Linked DNA regions of Homo sapiens. The protein of the gene in region 1 interacts with the protein of each later gene in a pairwise test. Each region holds a gene or a part of one and is shown in the gene's direction. Other genes may lie near its edges.

Region 1 (3,563 bases):
TGCTGCGACTGGCACCCCGAGGACAGGTGTGGCATGGGGGTGCAGGGGCAGTAGGTTGACAGTAAGCTCTCACTGCCTCAGATCCATGAGACAGTCCGGAGCAGCAGAGCGGGGGGGTCCCCTCTCTGCAGGAAAGGCCACTGAGGGTTTGGGTGGACCTTCTTCCCACAGGGGCTGGTTGGCCACTGGAGGGCGCGACAAGATGGTGAAGGTCTGGGACATGACCACGCACCGTGCCAAGGAGATGCACTGTGTGCAGACCATCGCCTCGGTGGCCCGTGTGAAGTGGCGGCCAGAGTGCCGCCACCACCTGGCCACGTGCTCCATGATGGTGGACCACAACATCTATGTTTGGGACGTGCGCCGGCCCTTCGTGCCAGCTGCCATGTTTGAGGAACACCGAGACGTCACCACGGGAATTGCCTGGCGCCACCCCCACGACCCCTCCTTCCTGCTGTCTGGCTCCAAGGACAGCTCGCTGTGCCAGCACCTGTTCCGCGACGCCAGCCAGCCCGTCGAGCGCGCCAACCCTGAGGGCCTCTGCTACGGCCTCTTCGGGGACCTGGCCTTCGCCGCCAAGGAGAGCCTCGTGGCTGCCGAGTCGGGGCGCAAGCCCTACACTGGCGACCGGCGCCACCCCATCTTCTTTAAGCGCAAGCTGGACCCTGCCGAGCCCTTCGCAGGCCTCGCCTCCAGTGCCCTCAGTGTCTTTGAGACGGAGCCAGGTGGCGGCGGCATGCGCTGGTTTGTGGACACAGCTGAGCGTTATGCGCTGGCTGGCCGGCCACTGGCCGAGCTCTGTGACCACAACGCAAAGGTGGCTCGAGAGCTTGGCCGCAACCAGGTAGGTAGGTGCTGAGCCTGGGGGTCCCTGGGCCACGACCTCAGGGCAGGGGCTGGTTCCTCCGTCAGCTGCGCTCACCCCACCTCAAGCTCCGCAATGGACTCCAGCCAGTCGCACCAACAGGCCTTGCCTTGGTAGCTGAGGGTGTCAGGATCACACAGGGCCAGGGCTCCAGGGTGGGCCAGACCCAGGACTGTCCTCTGAGGGGCGGGGGTCTCGGGAGTCGTGTGGCTCAAGCTCTCTGTTCTTCCCCCCTTGCTTCTGGAGCTCTCCAGGCACCAGCAGCGGTGGAGCCGTGAGCTGCCGTTCCCATGCCCATCTCTAGCTGCCCCGCAAGTCCCCACTGCCCAATTCTGTTTTCCTCTGTGCTGCTGTAGGGCGGGGACCGGGGTTTTTGTCTTTCCCATGAGCCTCAGCTTTCCTACCTGGGGTGGGCCTGGACATTGGGTACTGAGGGCAGCTGAATGCTGAGGGCTTGTGACTGTCCAGGCAGAGAGGGACCTGCATGGGGTGCTGGGTGTCCAGGACGCCCACAAGTGACCAGTGCCCGCCCCTAGGTGGCGCAAACGTGGACCATGCTGCGGATCATCTACTGCAGCCCTGGCCTAGTGCCCACTGCAAACCTCAACCACAGTGTGGGCAAGGGTGGCTCCTGTGGCCTCCCGCTCATGAACAGGTAGATGCCGGGGGCAGCTCTCCCCAGGGGCTGGGGCTGCTCGAGCCCACCCACCCATGGGCCCTTCCTGCCCCCAGTTTCAACCTGAAGGATATGGCCCCAGGGTTGGGCAGTGAGACGCGGCTGGACCGCAGCAAAGGAGATGCACGGAGCGACACAGTTCTGCTCGACTCCTCGGCCACACTCATCACCAATGAGGGTAGGCTGGGGTGGGTAGGGGTGCTGATGGGAGAGGGGTGGGGGTGTCCCAGACGACCCTGAATGCCCGCCCCATTGTCGGGCAGATAACGAGGAAACCGAGGGCAGCGACGTACCTGCCGACTACCTGCTGGGTGACGTGGAAGGTGAGGAGGACGAGCTGTACCTGCTGGATCCGGAACACGCGCACCGTGAGTGGGGGTCCGGGCAGGGTGGGGTTCAGAGGCGGATGGAGGACAGACTCAGAGCCTCCGCTGGTCCCTGCCTTCCAGCCGAGGACCCTGAGTGCGTGCTGCCGCAGGAGGCCTTTCCGCTGCGCCACGAGATCGTGGACACGCCTCCCGGGCCCGAGCACCTGCAGGACAAGGCCGACTCCCCGCACGTGAGCGGCAGCGAGGCGGATGTGGCCTCCCTGGCCCCCGTGGACTCCTCCTTCTCGCTCCTGTCTGTCTCACACGCGCTCTACGACAGCCGCCTGCCGCCCGACTTCTTCGGCGTGCTGGTGCGCGACATGCTGCACTTCTACGCTGAGCAGGGCGACGTGCAGATGGCTGTGTCTGTGCTCATCGTCCTGGGTGAACGGGTGCGCAAGGACATCGACGAGCAGACCCAGGTGTGTGGTGGGCGGGGCCTCCCCCCTGCAGCGCCGCCCCTGGCACCCAGATCCTGACTGCCGGGCGCTCCCTCCCCCAGGAGCACTGGTACACTTCCTACATCGACCTGCTGCAGCGCTTCCGCCTCTGGAACGTGTCCAACGAGGTGGTCAAGCTGAGCACCAGCCGCGCCGTCAGCTGCCTCAACCAGGCCTCCACCACCCTGCACGTCAACTGCAGCCACTGCAAGCGGCCCATGAGCAGCCGGGGCTGGGTCTGCGACAGGTGGGGCAGTGGGGTCGGGAGGTGGGGCAGGGGCCTGCAGGCAGCGCAGCAGCCCCCGCTGAGGCACCCTCCCTCCCGCCCGCCCCCAGGTGCCACCGCTGCGCCAGCATGTGTGCCGTCTGCCACCACGTAGTCAAGGGTCTCTTCGTGTGGTGCCAGGGCTGCAGCCACGGCGGCCACCTGCAGCACATCATGAAGTGGCTGGAAGGCAGCTCCCACTGTCCCGCAGGCTGCGGCCACCTCTGCGAGTACTCCTGACGGGGCATCTGCTGGGCTTGCCCGGGCGGCCGCGTGCAGAACCCCGCCTGGTCTTGTGCCCGAGACGGGCGGAGGCTGGAACTTGAGACCTCAATAAAGGAAGTAGAGCCGCTGTCGGCACTGCGTGTCACCCCATAGCGCGGCGGGCTCGCCGTAGGCCCGCGGGGCAGCTGGCGGGCGGGGGCTTTCGGCGGGGTTGTCGCCATGGTAACCGGCGGCGCCCATAGTCGCTCTCGGGGCGGCCTTCCCAGTGCCTCCCGTAGAGGCCTCTTCCGGGGCGGGCCAAAGGAGGTCACTTCCGGGGTCCGTCCCGGTTCCCGGCCGTTGCCACGACGACGAAGCTGCCGGCCAATGGCTGGCGGATGGGCCCAAGGTTCCCGGCGTGCAGCGCGGCTGCCTGAGGGCGGCAGGCTCATGGCGCCGGCGTCGCGGTTGCTCGCGCTCTGGGCGCTGGCGGCTGTGGCTCTACCCGGCTCCGGGGCGGAGGGCGACGGCGGGTGGTGAGCGGCCCGGGAGGGGCCGGGCGGTGGGGTCACGTGCGGCGGGCGGGGCGCGGGCTGACCCAGCTGTGCCCGCAGGCGCCCGGGCGGGCCGGGGGCCGTGGCGGAGGAGGAGCGCTGCACGGTGGAGCGTCGGGCCGACCTCACCTACGCGGAGTTCGTGCAGCAGTACGTGCGCCCCTGATCGCGGAGGTCGCGTCCTGTTCACC
Region 2 (7,286 bases), on another chromosome or scaffold:
TGTAGATCCTATAGAATTGAAGGGAACTCCCCTAGACTTCCTAAAAGCTGGGCCTACAGGAAGCCAAACCTGAGGAAGCTGAGCTAGGAGAGGTGGAAACAAGGCCCAGGGAGGTGAAGGCTAGGCCAGGGAGTGGTGTCATGGATGGCCTTTCTGTCTGTCCTCCCTTTCAATAGGGGTTCAGAGCCAGAGATCTTCGGCCCTTGTTCCCCTGGGCAACTGGGCCCCTCTCCCCGCCCTGCAGCTGAGCGGCATCTGCTGCTTCTGGGAAGGAACTTCTTGCAGTGGAGGAGACCAACACAGCAGGGTGAGGGCATGGCCCGGGGGGGCGGGGGGCGGGTAGGCTAAGAGTAACTGGTGGGGTCTCCAACCTTGCAGAGGGGAGGGTGGGATCAAGGGGGATCTGTTCCCAGGCCCCTATTGTGCCCCTCCCCCACCCTGTAGCTGCCAAAGCCATGCAGCGCTTCGAGCCAGGAGGTGATGGGAGCTCAGGGCGAAATGCTCCCCGGCAGAGGCTCTTGCTACTAGAGGTTGTGGACAAGAAGGTAAATATGGGGCCAGGGACTGGGTGGGAAGAGGGGTTCCGTGATCTCACTGACCCTGACCCCCGACCTCCAGCTACAGCTGCTGACCTACAACTGGGCTCCAGACCTGGGGGCAGCATTGGGCCGAGCGCTGGTTCGCCTGGTGCAGTGGCAGAATGCACGAGCCCATCTCATCTTCTGCCTACTCAGCCAGAAGCTTGGCCTCTTCCATCATTATGGCCAGTTGGACTTCCCCGTGCGAGATGAAAAGGTGCCTGCTGCTCTGGTTCTTCCTATAGTTTTGGCTACTGAGGGGTCAGTTAAAGGAAAAACCAGCTCAGAAGCCAGAAAGATGGGACAGACTGAGGGCAGAGGTAGTGGGGAGGGAGAGTCTGAGAGAGGAAGCCCTGGGATGAGAGAGAGGGTCCGAGGGCAAAGGCTATGAACCCATTGCAATGCTCCATCTCTCAGGAGCCAAACCCATTCCTGCTGCCGACCATGGAAGTGGAGACCCTCATCCGGAGTGCAAGTCCCCCGCTGAGCCGTGAGCAGGGCCGACTGAGTGGGTCCTCTCGTGGTGGGGGTCCTCTTCCCCTGGACACATTCCCCTTTGACGAGGCCCTAAGGGATATCACGGCTGCCCGCCCCAGCTCCGTACTTGGTCCTGTGCCCAGACCTCCTGATCCTGTCACCTACCATGGACAACAGTTCCTAGAGATCAAGATGGCAGAGCGCAGAGGTGAGGGTACTGGGCCAGGCAGCAGGGACAGGAAATCTGTGGAGTCTGGGAGGAAGGGAGTGACAATGCCTGGGGCTACTACTAATGCCCTCAACCCTCAGAGCTGGAGCGCCAGATGAAGATGGAAAACCTGTTTGTAACCTGGCAGCAGCGTTCTACCCCAGCCACCATGCCCATCAGTGTGAGTGACCCCAGCTTGCATCTTCCTTGAGTATCTGTGATCCTGCCCCGTCACTGCTCCATGCTCACTGCCCTGTTTCCCCAGGCTGGAGAGCTGGAGACCCTGAAGCAGTCATCCCGCCTGGTGCATTACTGTGCAACAGCCATGCTCTTCGACCCAGCTGCCTGGCTGCATGGGCCCCCAGAGACCTCTGGACCCCCTGACGGGCAGGTAAGGCTGACTCCCAGACTTCTAGCAGACCTTTGCTTACCCCACAGTGACCCCCCTCCTCCATCCCCAGCAGGATGGTTGACAGTGGGGAGAGTCTTCCTTGATCTTTACTCTCATAGCGGCGCCATCGCCCTGAGTCAGGGTCTGGGAGCCGAGAGGCCCCCACAAGCTGTGAATCCTTGGATGTGTCGCCCCCGGGAGCCCGTGAGGAGCCTTGGCTGAAGGAGCTGAGCTTGGCTTTCCTGCAGCAATATGTGCAGTATCTGCAGAGCATAGGTTTTGTGCTGGTACCACTGCGGCCCCCCTCACCCGCCCGCAGGTGAGCCCGTCCCTGTTTTCCCTTCTGTCTTCTCCTCCTGCACTGCAAGTGAGGCCCCACAGGCCCTTCCTCTCTTTACAAGGTCCTATGTTGACAATTTGGGCTGGGCCTGTGCATGTTTATCCCACCAGGCTTGCACTCATGTGAGGGTCTCAGATACTTTCACACAGCCCTCATGCGTGTCCTGCAGACCTTGTATGCTTTATGGAACTCATGATGACACTCATACAAAACTGTGTCCATTTTCACAAAGCTCATGCCCACACACATCTTGTACACTTACACACTTGCATACATCCCCACATGTGAATTTTTTTGGAGATGGAATCTCACTGTGTCGCCTAGGCTGGAGTGCAGTGGCGCGATCTCGGCTCACTGCAACCTCCACCTCCTGGGTTCGAGCAATTCTTGTGCCTCAGTCTCCCAAGTAGCTGGGATTACAGGTGCACGCCACCCTGCTTGGCTAATTTTTTGTATTTTAGTAGAGATGGGGTATCACCATGTTGCCTAGACTGGTCTTGAACTCCTCAACTCAGGTAGTCCGCCCACCTCAGCCTCCCAAAGTGCTAGGATTATAGGTGTGAGCCATCACGCCCGGCCTGCACATGTGAATCTTGTACATGCTCCTAAGCCTCTGGATCTAGGACTTAATGATTCCTGTCCTTATCATCCCACTGACCTCTCCTGAGATTTGATGTAGTTCTCGGCCCAGGGAAGTCCTTTTCTCACCAAGGACCTCTGTGCTAGGCCTACTTGCATCACTGTCCTTGGCCTGTTCTTGGTCATGTTCACCCACTGGCCAGTACTGACAGGTCTGAGTCTTGGGAAGTAGGCAGCCCGTCTGTTGCCACCTCCATCTCCCCTGAGCTCAGGGACAACTCTGCAGCCACCTTTTCATCCACTGTCAAATCTCAGATTCCCGTGTTTGTGGCCCCTGCTCTATGTTCCTCTCCAGATTCTGTGTTCTCTGCCCTTTCCCAGTGGCTGTATGCGAAAAATGAGCTGTTCACCTTACACATAGCTACTTTCGTGTCTCCAGATTTGTGAGTTTATCAAGGCATGTTCTCCCTCCTCTCTGTTTTCAGTTAGAACCTTTTCAAGCCAGTAGTCCAGAAATGCCAGTTCCAACTCTCTCATGTTTCTGTGACCAGCTCCCCACTCCCCAGGTTTCCCTCTCTTCCAGGCATTAGGAAGAGAAGGCGTGCCTGCCCCTCCTGTGATCCCATCTCAGAGGCCAGGCTGGCCCCTCCTACCCTGGGGAGGAGCTGCCCAGCTTGCTATCTTGACAGCCAGTTCCCAGCTCTAGGAGCTTCTCTAAAGGACTTTAGTTTGCACACTTGCCATAAGTTATGCTCTTTCCCCCAAATCTGAATTCCTTTAGACACTGGGTTAAAAAAAAAAATGTTTCTACAGCAAAATTTAAAGCCAGGTCTTCCCTTCCCACCAATCTTTAACAATCACCAATCACTAAGTCTTGTCCCAGTTTCCTTGAGGTTTAAATGGGACATTTTTTCCACCAGAGGTTTTGACCCCCAGCAAGAATTCTGGCAGTTTATAGCCCCTTGGCGTGAGTGGGTCCCCCCAACCCCTTCTGTTCTGTCCCTTCTTCCCAGTCCCTCCCCTGCTTCCCTTCTCCCCTATCCTCTGCACTAAACTGTAACGAGCAGTAGGCCTCTGAAAGCCTGGAACTGCCATCCCCCCCAATCAAAAGACAGCAGCTTTGCCCTTTCAGAGGAAGGTACCTAACCAGGCATCAAGCATCTCCTTGAATTTTCCTAATCAAATTGTAGACAGGCATCACCTTCCCCCTTCTCTTTCCTGCCCAGCACACACCCTCTCAGTAGCAGAGGCTTAGTCTCCACCTCCCCACTGAGCACTGTTTTTGCCTCCCTTGAAGCAGCAGCTGCTATGGAGAGAGCCCAGCCTTGCAGTCTAGACCTGGACTCCAAGCCCAGCCTTGCCACTCACAGTGGCAGCTTTGTGGGTCTGTTTCCTCCCTTGCAAAATGATTCCATATAAAACAGATTCTGGGTCTGATCACCATGACTGCATGCCACTAGCCTGCCTCATCCTCTTATCCCTCCTCCTTTTCTATAGCACCAGCCGGCCACGGGCCATGGCTATCCTTGGAACAGAGGGTCGAGGCTCCTTCTCCTGCCCTAAAACCAAGACTGATGGGAGCCCCAAGGTAACTTGTCATATAATGGTAAAGTTACTGATGCTAAATTACTTTCCCACGGCCTGAGGTCATTGACCCTGAGTGATGTACCGAGGTCACTGATCCCAGACTGACACCATTAAAGTCAGGGTCCAAGGGACTTCCACCCTACTGATTCGAGGCTGGTGAGCCCCCAAACCTTGCCCCCTTTTTTGTTTCTTCAGAGCACTAGCTCTCCGGTAACCACCTACCACCTGCAGCGGGCACTGCCTGGGGGCATCATCCTCATGGAACTGGCATTCCAGGTAAGCAGGAGGAGCACTGAGTGGAGACAGCCAGACCCACCTGTCTCTCGCCTTCCTGATCTCATCTTCACCTTCCCTCCAGGGCTGTTACTTCTGTGTCAAACAGTTTGCCCTGGAATGTTCCCGAATCCCAATGGGGCAGGCTGTCAACTCACAGGTATGTGAATGAGCTGCGGGCACAGTCAGTGCACCCCAGTGTGCTGTGGGCAGCATGGCTCCATGTCCCATTTGCTGGGCAGTAGAGTAATGCAGTAGGCGGGCTGGCCCAGTGATTGATTCACTGCTATGGCCTGGCTAGGTCAGTGCTCATTCTGGTGCCATGACTGCACTCACTACAAGGCTGACCCCATCGGTCATCCAAAGCGTGTTCAGCTGTAGCCCTGAGGCAGCACAGTGCCTGGTCTGGCCTGTAGTCATCTAGAGTCTGTGGCAGACCCTGATGGAATCTGGGATAGAGCAAAATGGCCCAGTTTCTGAAAATGGCCCTAGTTTCATGGAGATAGTTACAATACAGTATGAAAAAGGGAGGCTAGAATGGGGAGGCCTTCCCACAGAAACCATTCTGGCAGAGGGCGTTCCACTAGGCCACAGCAGCAGGGGAAATCTTGTGCTTCTTCCCACGGAAGGAGGGAAATGTGTTTTGGGCAGCCAGTGCAGCCATACCTTAACCCTGTCTCCTGCTGCTGCCTCCCCAGCTGTCCATGCTGTTCACAGAGGAGTGTGACAAGGTGCGGGACCTGATGCACGTGCACTCGTTCAGCTATGACTTCCATCTGCGCCTCGTGCATCAGCACGTGCTAGGTGCCCATCTGGTGCTGCGGCACGGCTACCACCTCACCACCTTTCTGCGACACTTCCTGGCCCACCACCCTGACGGACCCCACTTTGGCCGCAATCACATTTACCAAGGTCAGTGCCCAAGGGCAAGCCAGTGAACCCAAAAAAGAACAGGCCACAGGTGCCTCCAGGTCAGGGCTGGTGGGACCACCTCCCTGGACAAGTGGTCCCATGTTGTTAATCATCTCATGTCACACATACCACGTCCCCATGTTTCTGTCCTGTGTCTGTTTCTTACCAGAGTTTGGACCCCATGTCACATGTCCCCTGCCCTCTGAGTCACTTCTGTCCCATCTCAGTGTTCCACAGGAATGCAGGAGCTCCTAAGGAAAGCAGACCCACTCTGCCTGCCAGTCAGAGCCTTAAAGACTCCCATCCCTGTGCCCCACCAGACCAGTGTGTCTGTCCTAGGCTTAGTGTCTGCTGTCTCCTGTTACTTATCCCTCAGGGACATTGGAGCTCCCCACACCACTCATTGCTGCCCACCAGCTATACAACTACGTGGCTGATCACGCCAGCTCTTACCACATGAAGCCATTGCGAATGGCCCGGCCAGGGGGCCCAGAACACAACGAGTATGCCCTGGTGTCGGCATGGCACAGGTAAGGCTGAGAGGGGCATCCAGCATGCACGCTGCAGGAGCTGGGGTTGGGACATACTTGCAGTAGGGAGACCAATGTTTTCTTGGGCAGGGGTGAGGTTTGTTTTATTAGAACCCCAGAGTTGACATCTCCCCAACCCGTCCTGCACAGTTCTGGCTCCTACCTGGACTCTGAGGGACTTCGACACCAGGATGACTTTGATGTGTCTCTGCTTGTCTGTCACTGTGCTGCACCCTTTGAGGAGCAAGGAGAGGCTGAGCGGCACGTTCTGCGGTCAGCAGATCCCCTACCTTGAACATGCCCATTTCCCAGCCTGCCCCACCCTGCCCTGTGTGTCTCTTGCTACAACCACCACTCTCCTGCCCTGCTCCCCACCCCAGGCTACAGTTCTTCGTGGTGCTCACCAGCCAGCGAGAGCTCTTCCCCAGGCTCACTGCTGACATGCGCCGCTTCCGGAAGCCACCCAGACTGCCCCCTGAGCCAGAGGCTCCTGGGAGTTCAGCTGGCAGCCCTGGGGAGGCCTCAGGGCTTATTCTAGCGCCTGGACCGGCTCCTCTGTTCCCACCACTGGCTGCAGAGGTGGGCATGGCACGAGCACGGCTGGCTCAGCTGGTGCGGCTGGCTGGAGGGCACTGCCGTCGGGACACCCTTTGGAAGCGCCTCTTCTTGCTGGAGCCACCGGGGCCTGATCGACTGCGGCTAGGGGGGCGCCTGGCCCTGGCAGAGCTGGAGGAACTCCTAGAAGCAGTCCATGCCAAATCCATTGGGGACATCGACCCCCAGCTGGTAAGGAACTGTGGGCTCCCGAAAGAGCTGGGATAGGTGCCAGGAATTCCACTGGCAGCCAGGGCAGAGGGCACAGGAATCTGAGGTGACTGGCACAGAAGACTCAGGCCTGTGGCTCCTCCCTCAGGACTGCTTCCTATCCATGACGGTCTCCTGGTACCAGAGCCTGATCAAAGTTCTCCTAAGCCGCTTCCCCCAGAGCTGTCGCCATTTCCAAAGCCCAGACTTGGGAACTCAGTACCTGGTAAGTCCCCTTGAGCTTCCTCTGAAAAGGGAAACACAGCAGAAATCCTCACCAAACAGATGTGCCCCTCAGCCTGACCAAACAAGCTCTGCTCTGGAGGGAGGCCTAGACAGAACGGGACTACACAGATACATGTAAAACCCTTCCAGTACCGGGCATCGAGCTACAGCATGTGATTCTCTGAGCAGCTCTGCCCTCAAAGACTCACCAAGAATACAAGCCTTGGCTTGAGATCCTGAGGGCCAGGCTCTGGAACTGACAACCCAAGGAGCTGTCAGAACTTTGTCAGTAGGCTGGAGCCCCAGAAAGGACCCCTTGGACTTTGAAGCCTTGTTACTTAAAGTGTGGTCCACAGACCAGCAGCCGCAGCACCTGGGAGCT

Evidence for each region.
Region 2: the proteins of WDR24 (region 1) and SZT2 interact in binary tests that used the Homo sapiens proteins (3 or more experiments, as listed by UniProt).

The regions. Positions count from the first base shown.
Region 1 is NC_000016.10:684,025-687,587, reverse strand, and holds the end of WDR24 (GATOR2 complex protein WDR24), read left to right. Parts: coding exon 1-26; intron 27-171; coding exon 172-844; intron 845-1,401; coding exon 1,402-1,520; intron 1,521-1,597; coding exon 1,598-1,719; intron 1,720-1,804; coding exon 1,805-1,909; intron 1,910-1,990; coding exon 1,991-2,331; intron 2,332-2,411; coding exon 2,412-2,596; intron 2,597-2,685; coding exon 2,686-2,854; 3' UTR 2,855-2,966; downstream 2,967-3,563. Other genes in the region: JMJD8 (jmjC domain-containing protein 8 isoform 1 precursor), read left to right, coding at 3,269-3,354, 3,433-3,522. UniProt on the Homo sapiens protein: Catalytic component of the GATOR2 complex, a multiprotein complex that acts as an activator of the amino acid-sensing branch of the mTORC1 signaling pathway. The GATOR2 complex indirectly activates mTORC1 through the inhibition of the GATOR1 subcomplex.
Region 2 is NC_000001.11:43,441,824-43,449,109, forward strand, and holds part of SZT2 (KICSTOR complex protein SZT2), read left to right. Parts: intron 1-176; coding exon 177-307; intron 308-444; coding exon 445-545; intron 546-618; coding exon 619-795; intron 796-995; coding exon 996-1,263; intron 1,264-1,364; coding exon 1,365-1,444; intron 1,445-1,528; coding exon 1,529-1,654; intron 1,655-1,773; coding exon 1,774-1,973; intron 1,974-4,070; coding exon 4,071-4,161; intron 4,162-4,355; coding exon 4,356-4,436; intron 4,437-4,518; coding exon 4,519-4,593; intron 4,594-5,131; coding exon 5,132-5,345; intron 5,346-5,721; coding exon 5,722-5,875; intron 5,876-5,952; exon of another isoform or gene 5,953-6,025; coding exon 6,026-6,148; intron 6,149-6,255; coding exon 6,256-6,661; exon of another isoform or gene 6,662-6,788; coding exon 6,789-6,905; intron 6,906-7,286.